2 separate regions of the Homo sapiens genome follow, and region 1 is linked to region 2. A link means that fine-mapping ties the variant in region 2 to the plasma level of a protein whose gene starts in the linked region. Region 2 holds a variant in brackets. A gene starts in the other region. All regions are shown on their forward strands.

Region 1 (5,329 bases), not on the chromosome of region 2:
TACTCAAAGATTAATGACAAGACAAAAATCAGAATGGTAATTTTTGTAAATTGGCCATTAACTCCATAACATTATCATTTTTTTCATCCTTTCACAATGCCTCATTAGAAAACATACAAAATTAAGTGTCAGATTTGTATTTACCACACTTCTAAATTGCGTAAAAATATCTTTACCACAATCAGTGATTAGTGGAAAGCATGGTGAAAATATTTGTAAAGTGTGCTAGTCAGTTCCAGTTGCAATGAATTATTTTGAGGGTCATGGAACCTCTTTGAACTTTCTGTTCAATCTTGGGATACTTCCCAGCTGCAAAACACAAAGACAAAAATTCAGAGCCTTAGCTTTAATAGCAAAGAATAGGTAGGAATCAAGATACTCAGTTTTTTCTAACTAAATTTTACTGGAACTTTACTTTACTAAATGTCAAGAAAATATGGATTTTGTACAAAAGTGAAAATTTTTAGTTATTTACAATTCCAATGAGTAATTTTGAGAGTCATGTAACCTCTTTAAACTTTCTGTTCATTCTTGGGATACTTTTCAGTTGCAAAATACAAAGATAAAAATTTAGAGCCTTAAGTTTAATAACAAAGAATAGATAGGAATTGAGATACTTCGTGTTTCCTAACTAAATTTTACTAAAACTTTATTTTACTAAATGTCAAGAAAATATAAATCTTGTACAAAAGTGAAATTTCCAGGCTAAAAAGAAATGGTTATTAAAATGGTTCTATAAGAAAAAAACAAGGGGTCAATGAACTCTACCTTGGGGACTAAGGGGAAATTAAAGAAAAGGGTCTTGAAGACTTGGTCATATAATCACTCAAAAACTGGACTATCATGTCCCACTGCCAGTGTAATTTGCCTCAATCCTGGACATATCTATGGTTAAATATGTTTAAGTCCTGCAAGTACAACATGACTTTTTCAACCATATTTTTGGCTCTACTATGCACATACTAGTATTTGTTCAAATTCTTTTAAAGGAAACACAACTCTTCAAATGTGGTTTTACCTTTATCAACTGAGTGAACTGATCAACCTCTCTGGGAATAATAAAGAAGACCTGCATTGTATTTTACAGTTGTATTGGTAGTTCTATTATCACAAGTAGTTTTTAAATGGCTTTACAGTGATTTGAAATCTAGAAAATGTCCCTAAAAATAAAGCATCTTGCTGGCTTCAAAAAGAAAATCACACATAAAGCCGCACAACAAAGGGGAGGGGAGAGGAAAGAGAGAAACATTGAAACATTTCTGTTCCATGTGTTTTCCATGGTGGAGATAATTGATTTTCTTAGTGCTGTTGTAGAAAGCGCTGCTGGCATTCACTGGCCTACTGAGTTCATCACAGCTGTGCTTGTGCATCTCTCTCAAGCTCCACTTTCCACTGAATTGGAAAAGATTTGAATTTTTGGTTGATAATCTGCCACACCCTTGCTTTGCCTCATCTTTCCAGGCACTCTCTTTGTTAAAGGAGATCCAGATTAATCAGTGCTTTAGTTGGTGCAGGTATTTAGATTTGTGTTAAAGCTCCAAATGCAATCCAAAAAGCAAAATGACATGTTTATGTGTCCTGGTTAACATCAGTGAAGTCAGGGAAGTATGGGAAGAAATGTGTGGCTAGATAACAATGAGGACAGCAGTTCCTGGATGGCATAATAGGATTCAGAAGTGTATGCATTTCACCTAGTTCAGACCCTGTATTAAGAAATGCTTTGACCCCGTATTAGGAAATGCTTTGACAGGAGGTAGAAAAATAGGATCTGGGACACAGAATGCAAAGGATCCTAGTGCAAAACCTCCATATTCGAGGTAGTGAAGAATCGTAAATCAGAATATCTGGAGAATGAATTCTCTAGGTCTCTCCTGAAGACCTTAAAATACAACAATCCTTCCATATGCAAAACATCAGCTAATGTTTCTTAAGTGAGTGCATCAATCATGAATTTTTCTCATGAGTATAAGGCTTTTATTTGAATAGCTAAGCAAATTAAGAATTTTAGAACAATAGTAATTTTATTTATAATGCCTAAAATAAAGCATAACAAGCATTATTTTAAAAATAACATTTCTAATTTTTCACAGTGGAAAATAAATCTAATGAAGAAATTCAATAAATTTCAGCTTTTATAGACCACCTAAAACAATGAGAGAAATCTAATATAGATATATGAATTCTACGTAGATACAAAGACATCATGAGAAAAACTATGTTTCTGAATTGGTTTGAACACAGGAAATATTTTTTGTGTACAGGACAAAGATGTCTGAAAGACAGAAAGATGCATATAACAGCCTTTCCCCAGCATCTCTACTGTGATCCAGTAGAAAAGCTTATATTCATGACCATTCTCAACAGTTACTTTTCTCCCACGCCCCCAAGCAGTGACTCTCCAATCTAAAATAAAGATACACAAGAGGTTGGTCTCGTTCTAGTTTTCCTTTCCTGTCATCAAATGATGTCATCTACATTGAGATGTCTTGGTTTGTGTCCTTGTGACTGAAGATATAAGAAAGCTTGGGAGGCCGAGGCGGGCGGATCACGAGGTCAGGACATCAAGACCATCCTGACTAACACGGTGAAACCCCGTCTCTACTAAAAATACAAAAAATTAACCAGGCGTAGTGGCGGGCGCCTGTAGTCCCAGCTACTCGGGAGGCTGAGGCAGGAGAATGGCGTGAACCCGGGAGGCGGAGCTTGCCGTGAGCCGAGATTGCGCCACTGCAGTCTAGCCTGGGCGAGAGAGGGCGACCCCGTCGCAAAAAAAAAAAAAAAAAAGATGCAAGAAACAAGAAAGCAAGTTTGCCACTGTCCATGCTTACAGGATTCATGTACACCTGGGAATATACATATGACATGAGTTGAGTGAAAATTTAGTAACACAAATTAGAAGAAAGAGAAAGATGAAAATTAGTTTAAAGGAGGTAATTTACTTAAGGAGGAAAGTTTTGCATTGAGGCATAAGGAAGTGACTTCCATTAATTGGTGTGAAATGGGGAGAATTTTATGTGCACAGGCATAGAGACGGACATGTTTAGGTGAAGGTGAAGAAAATTAGTTCAAGTGACCTTGATTAGAATTGAAATGTCCACCGTAGATTATAGAGATAGATGAACTAACTATGAACTGATGATTAGGGTGTAAAGAGATATCTCCATTGCCAGATATAGCCTTATACTGTGGACAAGCATATTTTTCCTGCAGAGATTTATCAAAGACCTATAAATGGTATTTGCCCCTCTTTCAAATATGACACAAAAATTACTGCTTAGATAGATCCAGAAATACATTGGAAAGTTTTGTGGATGAGGATCTGGAAAGTATACACATAAAAGTCTAAATTAGAAATATTTATACTAATCTTTAGAGTAATGCAGAAAAAATGACCACTTTCTCTGGTACTCTTTTGCTATTCTATGTGATAAACTCTTTCTCTTCCAGTTTCCTAAAAAGTTATGTCATGAAAAGGCTGAATTTTTCTCTAGAAAAATCTGCTCTGTCTTTCCCAGGCAGCATAAAAATTGGAAATCTCACAAGAAAGCACTCTGGCTTGCTAAAGAAATTTGTGAGAAATGGAAACAGCTATAGATAAGTATCTAACTTTTAGGAAGCCATTCAAACATTGCTGAAATACTTTGTCTTTTGATATTTGCCTGAAACTTAACTTCTAGGACCCAGGGTGGGTGGATGAGTCGAAGGGGCATACGGTGGCATTTCTTTCCGTGAGTCTCTTACAGTCTCCTATTTAAATTGAGTTAGGATTACTTCTGGCAAAATCCCAACATAAAAATCTTCTAGGAAGATCAGTTCTGTAAATTAGACATACTAGATAAATGGGCATCAAGCAGTTTTTCAAAATTATGCAGTTGTTAACTTCATAAGGGGAAATAAAAATGTATGCATTTACATTGTATGTATTAAAACAAGGCAGAGCATTTCTATACGTTCCTAAGTTATACAAACATATATGTAAGAGTGAAATATGTAAAAAAACTTTTACATAAGCAGATGCATACAAACTCCAGATGTGCTCTTTTTCTTACTGTGGGTTGTGTCTTCTATAAGGGAAAAAGAAATATTTATCATTTCTTTTACTGCTGAGGGGATGGGTGCGGCTCTCATATTTCAGAAAGGGGCTGGAAAGTGAGGGAAGCCAAACTTTTTCCTATTTAAGGCCAAAGCAAAGGAATCTCAGTGGCTGAGTTTTATGACGGGCCCGGTGCTGAAGGGCAGGGAACAACTTGATGGTGCTACTTTGAACTGCTTTTCTTTTCTCCTTTTTGCACAAAGAGTCTCATGTCTGATATTTAGACATGATGAGCTTTGTGCAAAAGGGGAGCTGGCTACTTCTCGCTCTGCTTCATCCCACTATTATTTTGGCACAACAGGAAGGTGAGTAGGTACTGATTTCAAGAAACTTTATGGGATTTTTGTCTTTCTTCTCCTCACAAAGAGGGGTGTAAAGGGGAAAATCAGTTGCCTGATTCAAGATAATTTCCTCTATAAGCTCCAGATTGTGAAACGTTGAACTGACCATGGCTGTGCTTTTTACATTACTTGAAAAATAATCGCGTTATGTGTGTTTTTAAGAGTTCTGTGGTTAAGATAAGATGTTCTTGTACTAACTTGTTTTCATGTTAAAGGCACTGGAAACTTTTAAAAATGGCTTTAAAATTTTTCCCTCCTGGATTGTTAACATCTTGGAATACTTCCCCAGGCAGTCTGGAAGTTATTGGTCTCTTGCAATAATTTTATGTTCCTCTTTGTCTGCTGGATTCTTTGTAAGGTTAGAATATTGAGCATTGTTTTCTGAATAAGAATGCCTTTCAAATATCATGGATTAAGAACAGTCTAAAGGAAGATTCTACGCATTATCAGAATCATTGAATATATTTCTGTAAAATGGCTACAAGATACCTATAAACATTCTTCAAAGGGATCAAACTGCTAAAATATTTTATTATTCCTGTTTTTATTTTGTTTCAAGAATGATTGATTAATTCATCTTTTCTAGTAGCTTGATATTAAGGGACTAATATTTTCCACATATTCTACGTTTTAACCACATTCGCATTAATGAAGAAAATATTTTTTAAAATGTTTCAACAGGAGGTTTGACTTTGCTGCAAACAAGGTAAAGATACTAGTACTGTTTGACTTCAGAAAGCTGTTTTGCTATATTTTCTAATAATTGCATGTAATGTTTTTCATATTCTAATTTCCCCTAAAAACACATTTGTCTCATTATTTATGTGAAAATATTCTTTTATTTACCATAGTCATGAAAATGCTGAACAAATTGGAATACAAACTTCCATAGAAA
Region 2 (5,324 bases):
AGGCTTCATTCTTGAGGTCAGTGAGACCACGAACCCACTGGAAGGAACCAACTCCAGACACAACACCACAAGAAACATTGGGGGAGAGGCCCCCCAAGACCCTAGTGACTCTAACCTCGGGAGAGAAGAAAGGTCAAGGAGTGAGGTCCGGATCACTAGCTTGAGGGGTGGGAGGGAGCAGCGGAGGGACGGAGGACCCCAGTGGCCAGAGCTGCCCTCGTCAGTGGCTGGTGCCTGCTCTCCTCACGTCTCTCTGCCTTGCTCAGGTGACGAGTCTCCCCAGGGCCCTGCACCCACCTGCAAGCATTTCAGACAGCGTCACGGGTGCCTGGAGGCTACCCCTAGACCTCGTTCTAAGCCTGCCCAGAGATGACTAAGGGAGGCTCCTGCATCTCTCTGAAGGGGCAGGAGGCAGGCTCTGGATGCCGGCCACTCACCCTCTGGCTCAGGATAGCCCTGGTGGCAGTCTCCTTCCTTTCTGCTCATTTCATTTCAATACATCAAGTACCTCCTCTACATACCAGGCTCTTTGCTGGGTGGCAGATGCCCCCAAGCCTATCCTGGCAGGCCTGGGCAATCAGCACTGTATGCCAGGCGCTAGGCCCAGCCTTCACTTGCAGGGTTAACCCGCCCCGCTCTGGCCACCTGGATCCGTGAATGAATGGGAGAATGCGGCTGCTCTCCAGAGAACAGCATTCTCTCAACCGCTTCTTGTCGCGCCAGAGATGGCCTCCTCGAAGGTGTGCTGGCAGAGCTGGCCTGGCCCAGTGGGCAGCCCTGTGAGGCCGCAGGGGTGAGGAGCCGCCAGCCACACCACATGGCTCTCCTGGAACGGAGCCACCTGAGCCCGGCCAAGCCGCCTCGAGCACCAGGGCTTGAGTCCATTGCAGGCACAAGGCAAAGAATTGCGACTTGAGGGAGGACCCGGAGGAAGGCAGGCTGGAGGGAGGGAGGGCGGGCAAAGGACAGCAGGGAAATGAAGGGGGCTGTGAAAGACCAGCACCAGATGAAAGTACCGAGATGTTCCGGACAGGCCTGATTTTCTTTATCTTCGGGGCTGGGACTGCCAAGAGGCCCCGGGGAAAGCCTGCAGGCTTCACTCCCACCAGAACCAGCACCATTTGAGGGACAGATTTCAATCCTTCCTTGGCCAGACAAGCAGGCGGGATGCCAGCGCTGGAGAAAGGGGAGGAGGAGGAGCGGTGGGCAGGCCTTTCCTGCTGGAGGTGGACACGCTGGGGGCGCTGAGGTTCAAGGCCACACAGTGAGGAGTGCAGAACCTTAACTGTCTCCTTGCATCGGCTGATGGCAGAGCTTTAGTTATAGCCATTTCAGGGAAATCCTGGTCAGTTAAGGTTTTCTAGTGCAGTTGGGATTTTCGCCTATATTTCCAGGTGCCTCTAAGGTCCTATGGAGCGTCCAGGTTTCACAGCTGGGGGAGGGACATCTGGTTCCCGGTCATTTATGTCCCCGCTGGCTTATGCAGGGGTGTCCTGCCCTTCTGCATCTCCCTCAGGGACTTGGGGAACCTTGGATGGTGTCTTTCCTCATACTGGGGCTGCAGGGGGCTCAGAACACTGCCTCTGACCCACTATTCCTCCATGACAATGATAATAACAAAATAGGTATTATTTACTATGTACACGCCCTGTTCTAACTGCTTAACACGTATTAACTCACTTAATCTTCCCAATACAACATAAGGTAGGTGCTACTGTCCCCCTCTTACAGATGAGAAAGCTAAGGCACAAAGGTGAAGAACTTGCCATGCCACCTCTCCTCCCTGCACTGGAAAACGTGTTGTGGGGTGGGCAACAGGGCTACAGAGAGCCCCTCGAGATCTTGTAGTCAGGCCTGGGGACTAAAGAACTTTGTCCCAACCTCTCATCTCTGGAGAGTTTTAGGGCTATTTTGAGACTTGAGGGCTAAGAATGACCTCTTTCCTTCTGAGCCTCCACGGCCTCCCTTCCCAAAGCAGTGGCGGAGGGACACCTGGGTCTCCTGGGCTGTGGGGTACAATGCATAGAAATAAAGTGGGGCTCGGTTGACGTATTAGACATTTATACCATTGGGGATGCTTTATTTTATATTTTAGCATTATTTATTTTTATTTTTTATTTTTCTGAGACGGAGTCTTGCTCTGTCACCCAGGCTGGAGTGCAGTGGCGCGATCTCAGCTCACTGCCTCCCGGGCTTCAGCGATTCTCCTGCGTCAGCCTCCTGAGTAGCTGAGACTACAGGCACCCTCCACCAGGCTTGGCTAATTATTTTTTTATTTTTAGTAGAGACCAGGTTTGACCATGTTGGCCAGGCTGGTCATGAACTCCTGACCTCAAGTGATCCGCCCACCTCGGCCTCCCAAAGTGCTAGGACTATAGGCGTGAGCCACCGCACCTGGCCTCATCACTGCCTTTTAATAAATGAGGCTGTCCTCTTGGAATCTCAAGCCATGAAAAGCCCCATATGGCAGGCAGACTCCTGCCAGGAAATCAAATTGATAGTGTGGGTAGTCCCCAGCTCCTCAATGTCTACCCCACCCTGGACCTCATGGGAAGCATTCCTGGTTGGGTAAATCCCTGAAACAGTTTTGGCCGGGCGCCGTGGTTTACGCCTGTAATCCCAGCACTTTGGGAGGCTGAGGTGGGCGGATCATGAGGTCAGGAGATCGAGACCATCCTGGCCAACATGGTGAAACCCTGTCTCTACTAAAAACACAAAAATTAGCTGGGTATGGTGGCGAATGCCTGTAATCCCAGCTACTCGGGTGGCTGAGGCATGAGAATCGCTTGAACCCAGGAGACAGAGGTTGCAGTGAGCTGAGATCATGCCACTGCACTCCAGCCTGATGACAGAGCGAGACTCCATCTCAAAAAAAAAAAAAAAAAAAAAAAAGAGTACAGTTTTTCAAAAACCTGATTTTCTGATGTAAACCTGTGATGGTCTCCTCAGCTGCCTCAAACACTGTCACATCCTACTGTGGATTCAAGCTGTCAGGATGTTTACACGGCCACCTCAAATTCCATTCCGCTCTCTACAAAAACTTATTTTTAGACGTGCACTGTCCCTTCTTATACATTCCTCAGTACTGGATCCTGGACAAATCTTTAGTCAACCTTAAAGTTTAGTTCAAAAGGCTCATTTTCTCATAGAGTTTGAGGCCATTTTTGTGAGTGGAGGAACTTGAGGTTTTAGGAATTTTATTTAAATCATGGAGATATTTTCGACTCGAATGGCTCTTAACTTTGATCTTGGGTCTAGGCTGCCTGGTTGAAACTACTACTGGTTTTCTTTCTTTTTTTTTTTTTGAGATGGAGTTTCGCTGTGTTGCCCAAGCTGGAGTGCGATGGCGCAATCTCGGCTCACTGCAACCTCCGCCTCCTGGGTTCAAGCAATTCTCTTGCCTCGGCCTCCCAAGTAGCTGGGTTTACAGGCATGTGCCACTATGCCTGGCTAATTCTTTTTGTGTTTAGTAGAGTTGGGTTTTCGCCATGTTGGTCAGGCTGGTCTAGAACTCCCGACCTCAGGTGATCCACCCACCTCTGCCTCCCAGTGCTGGGATTACAGGCGTGAGCCACTGTGCCCAGCGAACCTACTGGTTGGTTTTCAAGAGTTGCATCACTTTAACTGGAACATATCGGAAGAGTGGGACCAGATTTTAAGGTGAGTCAAGCCTGGCCTTCCTAAAACCCTATTGACTCCTTAATTCAGCTCAGGGCACCCCTTTGCCGCAAAAATCTCATCCTTTGAGACCCCTAGGAGAGGGTGAGTCGGGGAAGCAGGGGCCTCTCCTAGTCTGAGAAGTCTTAAAGGCAGGGGGGAGAAGTGCCGCCTCCTCATTTCATCTTTCTCTCTCGTTCTCCTCTCTCTGCCCTTTCTCTGTCCCTCCCTCCATTTTTTAGAAAATCTATAGAGGCAATGAGCTTTAGCAAATTTATCCAGTTGTGTAAATATTGCCACAAAGCAGCTTTATAACACCTCACTCACCCCCAATAGTCCCCTGGACCCTATTTGCAGTCAATCCCTGCTCCTTTCCCAGCCCCCAGCAACTACTGATCTGCTTGCTGTCTCTCTAGTTTTGCCTTTTCTAGAAATTGTGTAAAATGAATCATATACTATGTAGTGTTTGGTGTCTGGCTTTTCTCACTTAGCATAACATTTTTGCATGTACCGTAGTTTGTCCCCTCCATCTTTTATTATTATTATTATTATTTGTGACAGGGTCTTGTAGCCTTGTCTACAAGGCTGCAGTACAGTGGTGCGATCATGGCTCACTGCAACCTTGACCCCCTAGGCTCGTGCGATCCTCCTACCTCAGCCTCCCGAGTAGCTGGGCCCACGAGGGTATGCCACTACACATGGCAAATTTTTAAATTTTTTTTGTAGAGACAGGGTCTCGCTATGGCCCAGGCTGATTTCAAACTTCTGGGCTCAAGCGGTCTACCTGCCTTGGCCTCCCAAAGTGCTGAGCTTATAGGCATGAGCCACCATAACTGGCCCTTTTATTTTTATTTATTTATTTTTGAGGTGGAGTCTTGCTTTGTTGCCCAGGCTGGAGTGCAGTGGTGCGATCTCAGCTTACTGCAGGGGTTCAAGTGAATCTCATGCCTCAGCCTCCCAAGTAGCTGGGACTACAGATGTCCACCACCACGCCCAGCTAATTTTTTTTTTTTTTTTGGTATTTTTAGTAGAGACAGGGTTTTGCCACGTTGGCCAGGCTGGCCTCCAATTCCTGACCTCAAGTGATCCATCCTCCTCGGCTTCCCAAAGTGCTGGGATTACAGGTGTGAGCCACCATGTCCAGCTCTTTTATTGTTTTTTGGCTTAAAAAACAATTTTTTT[T/A]AAACAAAAACACACACACACACACACGTACTCAAACACACTCGCACACACAATTTTCTCACTAACCCTCTGACCTTCCACCCCAAGTCCTGACTTGGTCTTTGGGCCCTAAGATGCAATCAGGAAAAAAAGTGTGGAGTCCACACCCCAGTTGGGTCCTAAGTGGGTACCTACAGGGGCAGCCACCATCCAGCCTGCCCCAGCCCATGGGGGCCCAGGATGTAGCATCCCCAGTGATGGTGGGAGCAAGGGAGAAGTAGAGGTGAGATGTGGGCTGTGACATGTGCTTCCCTCTCCCTCCAGCTTGAGACCCTTGGCCTCTGACCAAGGCAAGTGAAATAAACATGAACGAAGCTGGGAGAATAATGTCAGTTTACTGAATGAATACATGGCTCGAGTCCATTCAGGGTGGAGTGAGGCCTGGCAGGTGCCCTCAGCAGTGGGACCCCAGGCCACTGGACCTGGCAGGGCTTCTGGGCTAAGGG

Which allele goes with the higher level. Alleles are on the strand shown, and positions count from the first base shown. The strength of an association depends on the size of the effect and on how common the allele is.
As copies of A replace T in region 2, the plasma level of the protein whose gene starts at base 4,203 in region 1 goes up (moderate association).

The links. PIP is the posterior inclusion probability: the model's chance that the variant is causal. Protein levels are from antibody-based Olink assays in UK Biobank. Linkage for the fine-mapping came from a reference panel and not from the study's own genotypes, which makes the PIPs less certain.
Region 1: COL3A1 starts here. The variant in region 2 is fine-mapped to the plasma level of the COL3A1 protein (UK Biobank, PIP above 0.99).

What each region holds. Positions count from the first base shown.
Region 1 is chr2:188,970,171-188,975,499 of GRCh38, forward strand. COL3A1 (collagen type III alpha 1 chain) reads left to right here and starts at 4,203. Exons shown (of 51, transcript NM_000090.4): 1 at 4,203-4,398. The coding sequence starts at 4,320. It overlaps LOC105373791 (a long non-coding RNA gene), which reads right to left. Exons shown (of 3, transcript XR_007087614.1): 2 at 177-309.
Region 2 is chr17:62,696,120-62,701,443 of GRCh38, forward strand. It overlaps MARCHF10 (membrane associated ring-CH-type finger 10), which reads right to left. Exons shown (of 11, transcript NM_152598.4): 11 at 5,195-5,324. Among named protein-coding and RNA genes, the nearest start is that of MARCHF10-AS1, 7.4 kb to the right of the region's middle. The variant T/A (reference allele first, on the strand shown) is at 4,840.